Linked DNA regions of Homo sapiens: region 1 is linked to region 2. The links come from fine-mapping of genetic effects on gene expression. Tissue or cell type: prefrontal cortex. Region 2 holds a variant in brackets; the other region holds the start of a gene. All regions are shown on one strand. Distances are from middle to middle.

What was found. PIP is the estimated chance that this variant, and not a neighbour inherited with it, causes the effect.
Region 1: it holds the start of ADAMTS20, and the variant in region 2 is fine-mapped to the expression of ADAMTS20 in prefrontal cortex (CommonMind, PIP 0.95).

Annotation. Positions count from the first base shown.
Region 1 is chr12:43,547,455-43,555,566 of GRCh38, reverse strand. It overlaps ADAMTS20 (ADAM metallopeptidase with thrombospondin type 1 motif 20), which reads left to right and starts at 3,364. Exons shown (of 39, transcript NM_025003.5): 1 at 3,364-3,736; 2 at 4,297-4,658. The coding sequence starts at 3,646.
Region 2 is chr12:43,443,895-43,452,006 of GRCh38, reverse strand. It overlaps ADAMTS20 (ADAM metallopeptidase with thrombospondin type 1 motif 20), which reads left to right. Exons shown (of 39, transcript NM_025003.5): 15 at 5,295-5,412. Among named protein-coding and RNA genes, the nearest start is that of ADAMTS20, 100 kb to the left of the region's middle. The variant A/G (reference allele first, on the strand shown) is at 4,599.

The sequences.
Region 1 (8,112 bases), 100 kb before region 2:
CAAAAGACTTCCCAGGTTTCAGCAATGAAAATCTTGCACCTTAGGAAATTCCCCAGTCTCAGGTAAATCATGAAGTTGACCTTCCTAATTCCTACCTATTAATATTAGAAAAGCAGTATATATTCAAAGAGTTGTTCCTTTTAGTATGAACATTCAGTATTCCATAATCAGCATAAATATGCATTGAGAACATAGTTTGTTCAGTATTATGTCAAGAATGTTACCTGTATTGTCTCTTTTAATCATCTTAACAATTGCACGAGATTACTATTATTAACTTTATTTTACAACTGAGAAAAAGTAGGCTTACATTAGGCAAATTGTTCAACGTTATACAGCTGCTTACAGTAGAACTAGGATTATAAAACAAGGTCTATTAACCCCTAAGTATAGTGAGAATATTTCTCCTTTGCAGGATTGAATATATTTTCTCCACACTGTGCCAAAAACTGATCACATGGCTTGTGTTTATAATGATTAATGTCTCAATTACAAATCAAACAATATTTTATTAATTATTATGTTATATTATTATTATTTTTTTTAGAGACGGGATCTCACTCTGTTGCCCAGACTGGAGTGGTAGTGTGATCATAGCTCACTGTAACCTTGAGCTCCTGGGCTCAGGAATGATCCTTCTGCCTCAGTCTCCCCAGTAGCTAGTTCAACAGGCAAGTGCCGCTATGCCTAATTTTTTTTTTTTTTTTTTTTTTTTTAGAAACGGAGGTCTCACTGTGTTGCCCAAGCTGGTCTCAAACTCCTGGCCTACATGATTTTCCTACCTCTGCCTCTCAGAGCACTAGGATCAGGTACCACTTATGAAATTCCTCTGACATACCATTTAACTTACCTATTACCTCCATGAAGCTCAGAGAGATTATATAATTCATTCTGGATTAGCATCAAGTTAGACCCAAATCTCTTTGGTTTCAAATTTCATACATTTCAAAGAATTCCATAAGTGATAGCTCTAATTATCCATGTGAGGAAATAGTTTGAATTAAATGGCATAGATTAGCTTATTCATGACATTTTCATTAGCAGAGTAGGAAGAAAGAAGAGAGATAATGTGAATATCAATAACATTTATAGCTCAGTATAATGAAAAAGCATTTGGAGTCAGAAAGGATTAGTAGAAATCCAGCTTAGATACTGTATGACAATGTAGCATCTATCTTCTATGAAATGAGGAAAACAATACATTTTACTGAACATTGTAAAGATAATAATGATATAGTATACACACCCCACATACCTTGTCATTTATTTGAAAAATGATGCCGGGCACTGTGGCTCTAGTCTGTAATCCCAGCACTTTTGGGAGGCTTAGGAGGGTGGATCATCTGCGGTCAGGAGTTCGAGACCACCCTGACCAACATGGTGAAACCTTGTCTCTACTAAAAATACAAAAATTAGCCAGGCGTGGTGGTGAGTGCCTGTAGTCCCAGCTACTCGGGAGGCTGAGACAGGAAAATTGCTTAAACCCAGGAGGTGGAGGTTGCAGTGAGCCGAAATCGTGCCACTGCCCTCCACCCTGGGTGACAGAGCGAGACTCCATCTCAAAAAAAAAAAAAAAAAAAAAAGAAAAGGTAAAAGGAAAAAGAAAAAAAAATCCCTCGCCCCATTCTTAGAGCAAGCTGAAAATCAAATGCTTGATTGTAAATACTGCCCTGAGTTACAAACATTCAGTGATGGAAATGAAATATCAAATTTTCCCTGTAGTCAGCAATGAGATCGCCAATTAAACAGGTGCAGTTCTATTTTCCGGTATTTGTAGGAGAGAAGGTATGGCTCCTAATGTGAAGACACATTCAGAGCTGCAATGTAATTAAAATGACTCAATTATAATGTACTGAAGGTAACCACTAAATAGACAGGTGTGAGTAAAGTCCATTTTTGTTTTGTTGAGAATAATACTATGTTTAGCTTAGGAAAAAAATCCTAATACTATGTTTAGCTTAGGAAAAAAATCCCACCAGAAGTCTATAATTCTTTGGTGAATGAAATGTCACCATTTCATTCATTGTGAGAAAAGAGTACAAAAGAATGGGAATGATTATGGAAGAATTACTATCACCAAGCTGGGTGATTTCCTGGGAGATGTAAGATTAAACCCTCTTTCATTGAACAAGATTGTTCCACATTTGTGGTGAACAACAGATGACCAAGTGTATGATATAAAAGTGAAGAGGCATGCCATCAGAGGTCAATTCAAAGAGTGCAGCATTTCCATTGTTGAGAGCTCAGAGGAGGTAGAGCAGTCAGGAACTAAATTAAAAGTGTTTTCCATTGTGTGTGTGAAGATTTACTCATATACTCCTTTCCTTTTTTTCTTATATTCTTTCTCTCCCCTGGTTGGATTTCAAGACAATCTGACTACTCCCACCCCCTTTGCTTTCATACTGGATATAGAGAAAAGTAATTATGTAACCTGCAAATCAAACAGGTGGATTTGAGAAATGAGAAATCGTACTAAAATAATTGCTTTCGGCTACCACTGTGGTGTATTCAATTTAACAGACACCTGGAGACAACTGGATTCAGAGCCACAGTAATTGTAGAGGAGGATAATTGTGAATATACGGGATTATTTGTATATTATAAACAAAGTGTATATGAATACTGTGGAACTAACGGCAAAAACTCTCGCAGGCAGGGCAGATCCAAGTTTTGTGGCTCTTGACGTTTATATAATTTTGGAGGGCTCTTGATACAAAATTAAGTACAAATATGAATATTAAAAGAAGAAAAATAAACCACAGTAAGTTACTAAAACTTTGGAGACTCAGATCCTTTTCTGAATTTATTTCGGCAATTGTCAGAAGTGCTCGTGTGCAAACTCGGCTTCCTCGCCCCACCTATGGCACTCAACTCCCGGCAACTCCCAGCACACACAGGGGCCCATGCAAGTGAGGCCCGGTCACTGAGCTTCATTGGTAGCATCCTCTGCCTACAAGAACTTCCGTTGTAGCTTATTTTATTTTGTTTGAGAAGCCTAAAAGTACCGTAAAACATAAAAAACAGAAACGTTCTATCTGATGCTTGTCATTTCATCTAAGAGCTCAAAACCCTAGGCACCTTTCACGTACGCGGGTGCTTGCATCTCGCTCGGTTTCATAGGTCCGGAATTGGTGCCCAGCCGGGCCTTGGGGCTACTCAGCAAGTCGCGCGCCCACTGGGGCAGCAGAAGGGTACCGCAGTCCCCTTGCGGCTGAGTGGAGAAGGGAGGGGGCTGCGCGGGGAAAAGCGAGCAGGGGCCGCGCCTCCCGCTGATTGGCCGGGAACAGCCCATAGGGGCGGGCTCTCCGCGGCGCTCGCCGGTCCGGGGTGGCTATATTGGCACCATTCCTGCTAGGTCGAGTTGCTTCCCCGCGCCGAGCTGAACCTGAGCAGAGAGTTTCTGAGGGCAGCGCGGGCGCAGGAAGGGGGGTGAGGCTGCAGTGCGATGAAGCAGCGGCTCAGCGAGCGGAGACAGGCGGTGTGGCTGGACCAGCCGGCCCAGGGCCCGCGCTGCTGTTCCCTAGGCTGCTGAGGCGCGGAGAGCGGCGGGCGAGAGGGAGGAGAGGGATCGGAGCGCGAGGGAAGCCGGCTTGGCTGCCGGCGGCTCTGGTGGGCCTCCCCGATCGGGGTCCCCAGGGTGGAACCATGTGGGTGGCCAAGTGGCTGACTGGGCTGCTCTACCATCTCTCGCTCTTCATCACCAGGTCTTGGGAAGTTGACTTCCACCCCAGGCAAGGTAAAGTCACCGCGAGACGCCTTCAGCGGCTAAGTGGGGGCGCGGGGCCCGAGTGGGACATGCAGGTCGCGGGGACGAGCGGCTCAGCCCGTTGGGGAACGCTGGCCCTGCTGGAGCTCCCGGGACTCCCGGACCAGTCAGCCGGAGAGGTCGCGACTGCGCCGGGTTTCGAGGAATCGCGCGCGCCTAAGACGCATCGCACTCCCAGGACCACACGGCGGGGGCGCAAGGGGCAGGGGGTCGCTTGCACCCGGAGGGAACGAGTTGGGGGCTGCGGGGAGGTTAGGAGGTACTGGGGAAGGAAGTGGGTTGCTTAGGGCCATTAGTGGTAGGGTCTTTGCTTGGGGAGGGTAGGGCAAGTTGGGGGTGTGGGAAAGCAGAGCACTAACCGTCCCAGTGCACGTGTGTGTGTGTGCGTGCGCATCAGCATGTGTGCATTTGTCTTGCCCCTGGCTGTACTGGGACCTGGGACCTTTAGCGGGGACGTTTGGTGGAAGAAGTTTAGAGTTGGACAATGAGGAACGCGTGGGAGCTCACTGGTCCTGTCGCTGTTGTTGCAGAAGCCCTGGTGAGGACACTGACCTCCTACGAAGTAGTGATCCCCGAGCGGGTCAATGAGTTTGGAGAAGTGTTCCCTCAGAGCCACCACTTCAGCCGGCAGAAACGCAGCTCCGAGGCGCTGGAACCCATGCCGTTCCGAACCCACTATCGCTTCACTGCCTACGGGCAGCTCTTCCAGCTGAACCTGACCGCCGATGCATCCTTTCTGGCCGCCGGCTACACCGAGGTGCACTTGGGAACCCCGGAGCGCGGGGCCTGGGAGAGCGACGCAGGGCCCTCGGACCTGCGCCACTGCTTCTACCGCGGCCAGGTCAACTCACAGGAGGATTACAAGGCCGTCGTCAGCTTATGCGGAGGCCTGGTGAGTGTCCTCGGGTCCCTTGGCATTTTCTTGGGATCCAGGCAAGGGCTACATTCAGCGAACGGGGCCTTGGGTTTTCGAGTTGGTGGCTGATGACCCTGGAGTTCAGGTTGGGCTACAAGAAGGATTAACACCAAGCCAGAGGCAACTCCTTCGGAAGGCTCTGGTGGCAGGATGAGCAGGTCTCTGCCTGCTGGGCAAAACCGACCCTCTGTGCAACGCTGATGAAAGATGCTCTTTCATCATCCCTGGAGTGGTGATCAGGGAGTGGCCTGTGGGACCACTGTTACAATGGAGTGTGTTTTCCGAATGGAGGGCAGGCTGTTTGACTCAGATGTACCCTTTCGTGGTCCTATTGAGGCAGAATCCCCCGGATTTACTTAGATAAGTTTGTTTCTGGAATTTGATAGAAGGAAAGGAGAATGAATATACATAAAATGAAATGGCTCCCACTGGCAAGGTCAGAATAGGAAAAGTTCATTTTGTTGATGGTATGGGGATGGCCTGTGAAGTAGAGTAGGGAAGAGGTTGAATCTGTTTAAAATGCATCATACTTGAAAACAGTCTACCTACAGAGATCTATTGGTTATGTCTGTTATATTTTTGTGGTGGTAATCAGTTGACACATAGCTACACCAACCATAATGTGATATAAAAGTATCATTTTATTGGTGATAAAGCCACAGTGTCTGTGGTTTCACCTACCTTCATACTTGAAGGAAATGCTCAGTATCAGAGGTTAGTGAAAATAAAGATGTACCTTTTTTCCATCCAAGTTCATGGAACCCCAGGGTAAGGACAGTTGTTTTAAAACATATATAGGCTCACTCCATCAGTAACTCCTCTGACAAATACATATTCAAGAAAAAACAAGAACTAGGAATTTGGTTACAGGATTCTACAGTTCCTAAGTATCTAGCTTTTGTTTAGCAGATACATACTTTTACAAAAGATACTTCTGGAAGGTGTTCAAAGATATTTTTAGAACATCAACACTGTTTATTCTTTGATTAAATAAAAAATTGATAACATTTCTCTGCAGTTCAAATGTAATACTCCTTTAGCTTAACTGATTTAAGATGTCTTCCTGGATGTGAGCTCTTTTTCAAGTGATTATCTTGAGTTGTTTTTTACATGAAATGGCTAGAACCATTTCCTTTCTTTCTTCCATGTAAAATATTTGCAACATCACAATGGCAGAATCACACTCTAATATTTACATAGCCACCTATACTTCAAAGGATAAAAAATTCTCCTTCTAAAACCTTTCTAAAATAATGTTTAGTTTGTCTGGAAAATCCTAGACTTGCTACCACAAATTTGTCATGGTCATTATGTTTTCTCATGGAAAAGCATTCCAGATGGGAAGGCATTATAGGGAATGCTGTTTCTGCTCATTTTGATTCATAATGTTGATGTAGTTAAATTATTATTCAGTATCCTTTTTTAAAATTTTTAATTTTTGTGGGTACATAGTAGGTATATATATTTATGATCAATATCCTCTTTTTGAATTCAGAAAGCAGTTAAAGATTTTTGAGTCATAACTCTCTAGTCACTGTGTCATTTTGGATACAGTTGCCCAAGTCATCATCATACTTTTTTTGTTTTATAACCTAGTTCATTTTATTAACATATCTAAAAATTAATATTAATATTTTTATAATGTTACGTGTGAAGATTTATTATTTCCTCATTTATGTGGATAATGTATTATACAATATATTATGTGTAAGTTAATCAGCAATGTTTATCTTCTTTAGCAATGTACTCATTAATAAAAAATGAAATCAATCATTTATGTTATATAAATTTTATAATAAAACATTCAGAACAAAATTATTTAATTTAATTGAGGGATTACTAGAAATTACAAACAAATAAAATGATTTGTTCTGAATGTTCTTTTACTAAATTTTTGAAGAGGAAAAATCACCTATAGGAGTCATACTTTGAATGGCAAGTAAATAATCCCATTTATGTACTTTGCTTTTGATAATTTATTGATATTATCAGAAGTAGTTGATAAAACATTTAAACGTTTCTTTTCATACCTCCATAACTTAGCTTTATTTTACATAATTTCTCTGTATTTGCATAAGGCTTAGTTGCATACTTCAATCATTGTAGAGACAGAAATTTTCCAGTAACATTGGAAATAACTAGAGGTATCAAGATCTACATTTTTTTCAGTAGTGTGATCATAATCAATTGTAAGTCTAAATTACTGATGAGATTAGTGACTTTTTAAAAATTTTGCTTTTTTTATATTAGCACTAAAACGGATATTAGCTACCTATTTATGATTATATATATTTATTTCTACACTGACTCTACGATTAAATTTCTTTGGATTAATAGTTTCATCAAATAATAGAACCTGGTAGATTTTAGAATCCATTTGTAATTATACCAGATTCCCCTTTTTAGTCTCAGATCAGCCTTTAGTCTTTGTATCTAGGTAAACTGTAGTATCCGAAACCTGGACCAGATGAATTGTTTGCAGATCAATGTTGATACAAAGCTTGGGAATTCAATAATGCTAACCTGATGGCCCTGCTCCTACTTGCTTCCTAGTTTATCTTTGTCACCTTGTGTACTTGATATCTGACTTTGGCCTCTCAGTCCATTAAACATTAAGGTTGCAGTTTGCTGAAGGATTCTCAGAGCTAGTCTTATTAATTTAGAGATGTTCTCTTCTTTTTCTAGTCGCTTTTTGCTTTACTTTAGTTTTGCTTTTAATCATGAATGGATGTTGTAGTTTATTAAATGTTTTTCCTGAGTATATTGAAATGAGCATCCAATTTCATTTCTTTTTCTGCTAATGAGTGTTGTTTCATATATTGGTGGATTCAAGAATTCATTGACCATTGATAGAAACTGACTATATACAGGGTTATAACGTGTTATGAGGTCTTTGTATTGTTTGGGAGAGGGGTGAGGAAATTGTACCGTCCTTCAGTTCCTCAAGTTTCTGGTGATGTTCTTTGTGCCATAGTTTCATTGTACTTTTCTGTTAACAGCAGCTGATTTCTGGGCCTGAGAACTTATGGCCTTTTTTCTCCTAGTTCAATGAGAGCTCACTGGTCTTGACTCATCCTCCTCTGGGCTCTCACTAGTGCTGTATATCCCTCTGAATTCTGGCTATAATATCCATTTGATTTCTTGTCTCAGTGATTCATTGTGCAGCCTTCAAATACAAAGTCCTGCTGCATCACCTTCTCCAGGTAAACTGGTTTGGTGATGCTATTGCTCTTCTTGCAGACCCCTCTAAAGGCCTCAAGCCCTCTATGGCATTTGAGAGTCAAGAGGGATTCAGTTCCTCTCTTTGTCGAACTCTTCTACACCTCTAAATTTGATGTGTGTAGGGAACCCTTTCAGAGGGTTCCTTCCTTGAGTCCCACATAGTCAGCACCCTGGAACACCTCTTTGGGCAGTCCCTTTGAACAATGCA
Region 2 (8,112 bases):
AGGTCAGCTTCCTAAAAAGATAGAAAATAATAAGATAAAAGGATTGTAAGGAGATTTTGCTACTTTAAGTGTAAGCTTCTACAGTAATGTTTTCCTTGTCCGTTGAAACCATTGATATTCTCCCTTCCTCTTTCCAGCTCTCTGTCACTTATTTTTTATGTACATTCAACAAACATTGATTGAGTAGCTACTAGATGTCAGATACTGTTCAAGTCACCAGGATAAAAGACTGGAGCAGAGAACCCCACTTCCAAGATGGTCACAGATTTGTGGGGGAAATAGGCATGTAAACAATTAGAATGCACTGCTATGGGTCATCTGCAAGGTAGCATGGAGATATTGAAAGGAGTTTCTTATTTTATGGGGAGGTGGGTAAAGGATTCAGAGAACCTTTTATGGAGCGCATAAGACTTGTGCTAAGTATTGAAATGAGTAGGTTTTAGGAAGATGAGGAAGTATGGGAGCAGAGTTGGAGTTAGGGACTAGCAGATGGTTGTCAAATGCACTTTTTTTTTTTCTTAACTCCTTGGAAACACATAGAAGCATTTGAAGTCAAGGGAGAGATGTGATTCGATTTGCATATTGGAATCTTCAAAATACTGGGTTTAGAAGATTGGAGGCAGGTGGTCCATTTAACAGGGTTGTAGGTCAGAGCAGATGAGATGCTGAGTTAAAGCACAAACATTGCAATGGCAGTCTTGAGAATGGATGGCGAGTTTGAGAACTAAGATAGTGAATGTGGTCTAAAGAATATAGTAAGTGTACTTCTATGAGATCAACTTTTTTAGATTCCACATATGAATGGGATCATATAGTATTTGATTTTTGGTGTCTGGCTTATTTCATTTAACCCAGTGTCCTCCAGGTTCATCCATGTTGTCACAAATGGCAAGGTTTCCTCTTCTTTATGGCTGAATAATATACCATTTTGTATATAAACCAGATTGTTTAAATCCATGCATCCACTGATGGACACTTAGTTTGATTTCATATTTTGGCTATTGTGAATAGAGCTGTGATAAACATGGGAGTGTAGATATCTCTTTGATATACTAAATTCATTTCCTTTGGAAGTAGTGAGGTTGCTGGATCATATGGTAGTTCTATTTTTAGTGGATGTTATGTGCTGTCACCACAAAAATGATAACTATGTGAGGTTATGCATTTGTTAATTAGCTAGATTTAACCATTCCTTAATGTATTGATATTCTTCAAAACATTATGTTGTACATGATAAAAACATACAATGTTATCTGTCAGTTTGAAAATAAAAGATAAAAAATAATTAAAAATATAAGTATAAGTTATGAACTTATTCCTTCAGTTAAAGTGGAGCTCTATAGGGCCAACTTCATCTCCCCATGAACAAATACCTTTTACCTTATCTCAGTGATAAAGGCTGTTCACCCAAAGAGCTAATGAGATGTTCAAAGAGAATTAAAATAATTTAAGTCGGAAACAGTTTAAATACTGAAAAGGTTATTCAGTGGCCTGAAAAAAGTTGTGCTTTAAATTAGCAGCATAAAGTCATATGACAATGCAAAAGTTATGATGAAGATTATCTGAACATATAGAGGCATGCTACTTTCAGAAAATATATGCTTAACATTTTGATTTTGAAAATATCTGCCTTGTGTATAAAAAAATTCACTAGGCTTAAGAAATTTTCTTTGCTGATCACTAAATTTAGAAGGCCATTCCAAACAATGGAAAGAGTTATTGCAATGTATGCAGAGGACAGCTTCTTCATGGAGAGGAGCTGCATTTGTTTTTTTGAAATTTCTGGAACAAGCCATCTACTTGTATATTCATTCATTTATTCATTCATTTTTAAAAATAAGCACTGTTATGCTGGGTATTAGTTTTAGAGAAAACTTTACTTTTAAATACTTATTTGAAGCTAAGACTATTTGCAGAGTTCTAAGGTCATGAGTTAAAATAATAACCATGGAAGTCATCTTTTTGGAGTATTCTAATGTGTTACTTACATACTCATACTTTAGTCTCTTTGAATTACATTTCTTTTAAGAGTGGTTTTCAAATGACAGTGGGTATTGGAATCAATGTCAGTGTTACAATGCAGATTCCTAGGTTTTATTTCCAAGTATTATAATTCAGAAGATCTGGGATACTGTCTTTTTAAATACCACCCCATGTGATGTTGATGCAGGAGGTCTGTGGATGACCCTTTAATAAACTTGGCTTTTTAAATGAATATGTGAAAATGTTACATACAACTAGATGAGTATATATTTTGAAACAATTCTGTTGTACTGAATCTCCTGTTAATTGAAAGGATATTTGTGAAAAGAACTTTGTAAACTTTAAAGCACCATGCTTATAGTTGGTCATTCTTTTTTTTTAACTTTTATTTTAGGTTCAGGGGTATATATGCAAGTTTTTTATACAGGTAAACTCGTGTAACAGGGTTTTGTTGTACAGATTATTTCATCATCCAGATACTAAGCCTAGTATCCAATAGTTACTTTTTCTGATCCTCTCGCGCCTCCTACCCTCCACCCTCAGCAGGCCCCAGTGTGTGTTGTTCCCCTCTTTGTGCCCATATGTTCTCATCATTTAGCTCACACTTACAAGTGAGAACGTGTAATATTTGGCTTTCTGTTCCTGTGTTGGTTTGCTAAGGATGATGACCTCCAGCTCCATCCATGTTCCTGTAAAAGACGTCATTTTATTCTTTTCTATGGCTGCATAGTATTCCTTTGTGTATATGTATCACATTTTCTTTATCCAGTCTACCATTAATGGACACTTAGGTTCATTTCATGTCTTTGCTATTGTAAATAGTGCTGCAATGAACATACACCTGCATGTGTCTTTATGGTAGAACAACTTATATTCCTTTGGGTATATATCCAGTAATGGGATTGCTGAGTTGAATGGTAGTTCAGTTTTTAGCTCTTTAGGGAATCGCCACACTGCTTTCCACAGTGGTTGAACCAATTTACACTCCCACCAACGGTGTATAACCGTTCTCTTTTCTGCAATCTTTCCAGCATCTTTTATTTTTTGACTTTTTAATAATAGTCATTCTGACTGGTGTGAGATGCTATCTTATTTTGGTTTTGATTTGCATTTCTCTAATGATCAGTGATATTGCGCTTTTTTTGTAGGCTTGTTGGCTGCATGTATGTCTTCTCTTAAAAGGTGTTTGTTCATGTTCTTTGCTCACTTTTTAATGGGATTGTTTTTTTTTCTTGTAAATTTATTTAAGTTCCTTATAGATGCTGGATAATAGACCTTTGTCAGATGTATAGTTTGCAGATATTTTCCCCCATTCTGTAGATTGTCTATTTACTCTGTTGATAATTTCTTTTGCTGTTCAGAAGCTCTTAAATTTAGCTAGATCTCATTTTCCAGTTTTTGCTGTTGCAATTGCTTTCGGTGTCTTCATCATGAAATCTTTGCCAGTTCTTGTGTCCAGAATGGTATGGCCTAGGTTGTCTTCCAGGGTTTTTATAGTTTGGGGTTTTACATTGAAGTCTTTAATCCATCATGAGTTGATTTTTTTATAAGATGTAAGGAAGGGTTCCGGTTTCAGTCTTCTGCATATGGTTAGCCATTTATCCCAGCACCATTTATTGAATAGGGAGTCCTTTTTCCATTGCTTGTTTTGATCAGCTTTGTTTAAGATCAGATGGTTGTAGCTGTATGGACTTATTTCTGGTCTTTCTATTCTGTTCCATTGGTCTGTGTGTCTGTTTTTGTACCAGTTCCATGCTGTTTTGGTTACTGTAGCCCTGTAGTATAGTTTGAAGTTGGGTAGCATGACACCTTCAGCTTTGTTCTTTTTGGTTAGGATTTCTTTGGCTATTCAGGCTCTTTTTTTGGTTCCATGTGAATTTTAAAATAGTTTTCTCTAGTTCTATAAAGAATATTAATGGTAGTTTTATAGAAATGGCATTGGATGTGTACATTGCTTTGGGAAATATGGCCATTTTAATGATATTGATTCTTCCTATCCATAAGCATAGAGTATTTTTCATTTGTTTGTGTCATCTCTATTGCTTTGAGCAGTGTTTTATAATTCTCATTGTAGAGATCTTTCACCTCCCTGGTTGGCTGTATTCCTAGGTATCTTATTCGTTTGGTGGCCATTGTGAAGGGGATTGTGTTCCTTATTTGGGTCTCAAGTTTGTTAATATTGGTGTGTAGGAATGGTAGTAAGTTTTGTACATTGATTTTGTATCTTGCAAATTTGCTGAAGTTGTTTGTCAGGTTAAGGAGCTTTTGGGCCGAGACTATGGAGTTTTCTAGATATATAATCATGTCATCAGCCAGCAGGGATTGTTTGACTTCCTCTTTTTCTATTTGGATGCCCTTTCTTTTTTTCTTTTTCCTGATTGTTCTGGCCAGGACTTTCAGTACTATGTTAAATAGGAGTGGTGAGAGGGCATCCTTGTCTTCTGCCAGTTTTCAAGGGAAATTCTTCCTGCTTTTCCCCATTCAGTATAATAGCTGTTGTGGGTTTGTCATAGATCGCTCTGATTATTTTGAGGTATGTTCCTTCAATGCCTAGTTTATGAAGAGCTCTTAACATGAAGGAGTGTTGAATTTTATTGAAAGCATTTTCTGCATCT[A/G]TTGAGATAATCATGTGATTTTTGTATTTTGTTCTGTTTATGTGATGAATTGCATTTGTTGATTTGCATATGTTGAACCAAATTTGCACCCCGGGGATGAAGTCTACTTGATTGCGGTGGATAAGCTTTTTGATTTGCTGCTGGATTTGGTTTGCAAGTATTTTGTTGAGGATTTTTGTATCAGTATTCATCAAGGATATTGGCCTAAAATTTTCTTTTTTTTTTGTCGTGTCTCTGCCAGGTTTTGGTATCAGGATGATGCTGACCTCATAGAAGGAGTTAGGGAGGAGTCCCTCCTCCTCAATTTTTTAAATAGTTTCAGTAGGAATGGTACCAGCTCTTATTTGTACATCTAGTAGAATTCAGCTGGGAATCGTGTGATCCTGGGCTTTTTTTGGATGGTAGCCTACTTATTACTGATTCCATTTCAGAGCTCATTATTGGTCTGTCCAGGGATTCTCTTTCTTCCACCTTCAGTCTTGGGAGGGTGTTTGTGTCCAGGAGTTTATCCATTTCTTCTAGGTTTTCTAGTTCATGTGCATAGAGGTGTTCATAGTAGCCTCTGAGAGTTATCTATATTTCTGTGGGGTCAGTGGTAAATCCCCTTTGTCATATCTGATTGTATGTATTTGGATCTTCTCTCTTTTCTTCATAATTAGTCATTCTTATAATATTGATTGTAATTGTGTCTTGAAGGCAGCTGGTTGTGATCACGTGTTAAACTCCAGTGCCAAGATAGACAAATGTGGAGTGTGTGGTGGGGACAACTCTTCATGCAAGACAATAACAGGTGTCTTCAACAGTTCTCATTATGGTAAGTTGTGTATTTGTTTCTAGATTTCGCTTTTATTTAGTATAATAATGGAGTCTGTAAAGAAGGTGTAACAGTAATTCTTTGTTACTGTTTTGTCTACTCTATACCCTTAGTCCAAAATGATTGTTAAGGAAAAATTTCCTAAATATAAAAAAATTAAATACTGTATTAGACCAGATGTATCCTTGATTAATGAATTCACCTGCCCCAGGCAAATCTGATTCTTAAAAATGTATTAGGTGCATTTCTTAGAGTAAATTCAGTGCTATTTGACTGTGATGTGTGATATGTGAATAATCCTCCCATTAATGAAATGGTTTTTTCCCTATAACCTAAAATGTATATATTTGTGATTTTTCCCAGGAAACTTGCTTTCAAATATTTTCATTACTTGAATCACTTTCTTTTTTTGGTATGACTTGACCTATCTGTTACATTTCTTATTAATAGTACATAGAAAATGTTGATTGAAGGTGAAGGGTGAAACCATTATCTTATATATTTTCTGAATTAAATGTTTCAGAATTATTGTCACATTTGATTTTCCAGGCAGTATCTGGATCACATATTGGCCATAATTTAATTTTTCTCCAAAATATCATGAGACTATGTAAAGTATTTTCCATTGTAATGTTTTCTGGGCAATTTTTTTTTGTTTTTATGATAATTAAAGCAGATCTTTAAAACTTTCTTTGCAAATTAAATTTATTTCTTACAACCTTATTTATTCATTTATTTATTTAGAGACAGGGTGCTACTCTGTTGCCCAGGCTGTAGTACAGTGGCACAATCATAGCTCATTGCAGCTGTGAACTCTTGAGCTCCAGCAATCTTTCCACCTCCTCATCCCCAGTACCTAGAACTACAGGTGTTCACCACCATGCCCATCTAATTTGTGTGTGTGTGTGTGTGTGTGTAGAGATGGGTCTCAATGTATTGCTAGGTTGGTCTCAAACTCCTAGCCTCAAGGGATCCTTCCATCTCGGCCTCCCAAAGTCCTGAAATTACAAGCATGAACCACCACACCTAGCCTATTTTTTACAGTCTGACTGTTCAGCTTTAAATTGTGTTCATGTGTGTTCAAATTGTTACTTACTTCCATTAAAACAGTATAATTTAAAACTTAATATTTATGTTTTTATGTATGTGAAAAACATAGTACATTTTATACTCTGATATTTACAAATCTCGGTTACTAGATGATTTGATATATGATTTTTCTAGTTATTTCTTGGGAGCTACACACATTTGATTCCCTTCTATAATGCATGGCACATACTTATTACAGTCTGTATTTACTGAAAAATATTTTTTCCAGGATAAAGCCACATGAACCAAATTAAGATCAAATATGTAATCTTGTGAAAATTGTACTGTGCATTAATCAGTTTGCAAATAGAACAATGCGTTAAACTCATTTGCAAGGTCTGATTAGCATTTGTCACATTTCTGCCCCCTGGTGGTAGCCTTCATCTTGTCACCTTTGCAATGCCTTAGGCTTGCTTTCTTGAAAAAAATATAATAAATAGTAAAGATATAAATAGTAAAAGTAGTGGGTAAGAATATTTTATAGTGAAAAGGAGGTTAATTAAAATTATTCTTGTAGGTCAATAACCTACAACCAGTAGGCATATAGTGTATACCGAATCATGAAACTATTTCTTATCGTCTTACACTAAAAATGTGATGCCTTAGATATAAATAAGTCTGCTCTAAAACACATGCAAGATAGTCTGACATTAGGGTTGTAAATTTAAGCTCTTTTTGAACTGTCTTCTTAAGTTAATTCCATATTTATCAAAGGTAGTGTATGAGAAAAATTACTTTTTACTCATGGTGCAGTTAACTAGGAGGAAATCCTAATAAATAAGGAAAAGGAAAAACTTAGAATAATATCCTTAGAGTATAACTAATTGTATATTTAAAAACCTGCGTATTTGGACAACTATGTAATGTGAGTGTTTTTAGTTTTCATGAAAATGTTTTTTCTTAATATATGTTAGATAAAATGTTTCCTCTTTTGAGCAGTGCCAATGTCGCTGAATTTGGCTTCATAAAATGGAAATATTACATTCATTTCACTTGAGTAAACTTTTTACTTTTCTCATAACAAGTTTATTAGTATTCTTGTAAAAATAATGTAAAATTTGGGGAATAGATGAAGAGATTCCTGCTTATACTACAAACTAAAACTTGAGCTTTAAACTTTTTCTTTTTTTATGATTTTTCAATAATGAAATTGAAAAATTTCATTATTTTGCTGTTTACTGAGTCTGTGTGAATATATCATAGCAATGACCAATTATTTTAATATCTCCTGGACTTGTGAATTGTATTTGAAATCTTCTATTTTTTTCCCAGTATAAAATATAAAAGCATTAACAAAGCTTAAAAATGGGTATGTGTACTAAGGGTCTCAGGAGCTAAAATACTAGCTTCATTCCATTCTATATTAAGAATATTAGAAGTAGGAAAAGATTAGGAAAAGTTAAGAATCTTAAACTCTGTTTCTTGACAACAACCACTTTTTCTCAATCCTCAGTAATTTGTGTAAGGTACTGACTCAAAAAGAATAACCACTGTGTAATTTTGTAAAGACACAACAAAATTAAGTCTGACTATGCTATTCGAATTTTTCATCCATTCAGCAGTAATAACCTCTGGGCCATCTGCTTTTTGTGAAATTTAACATATGTAAAA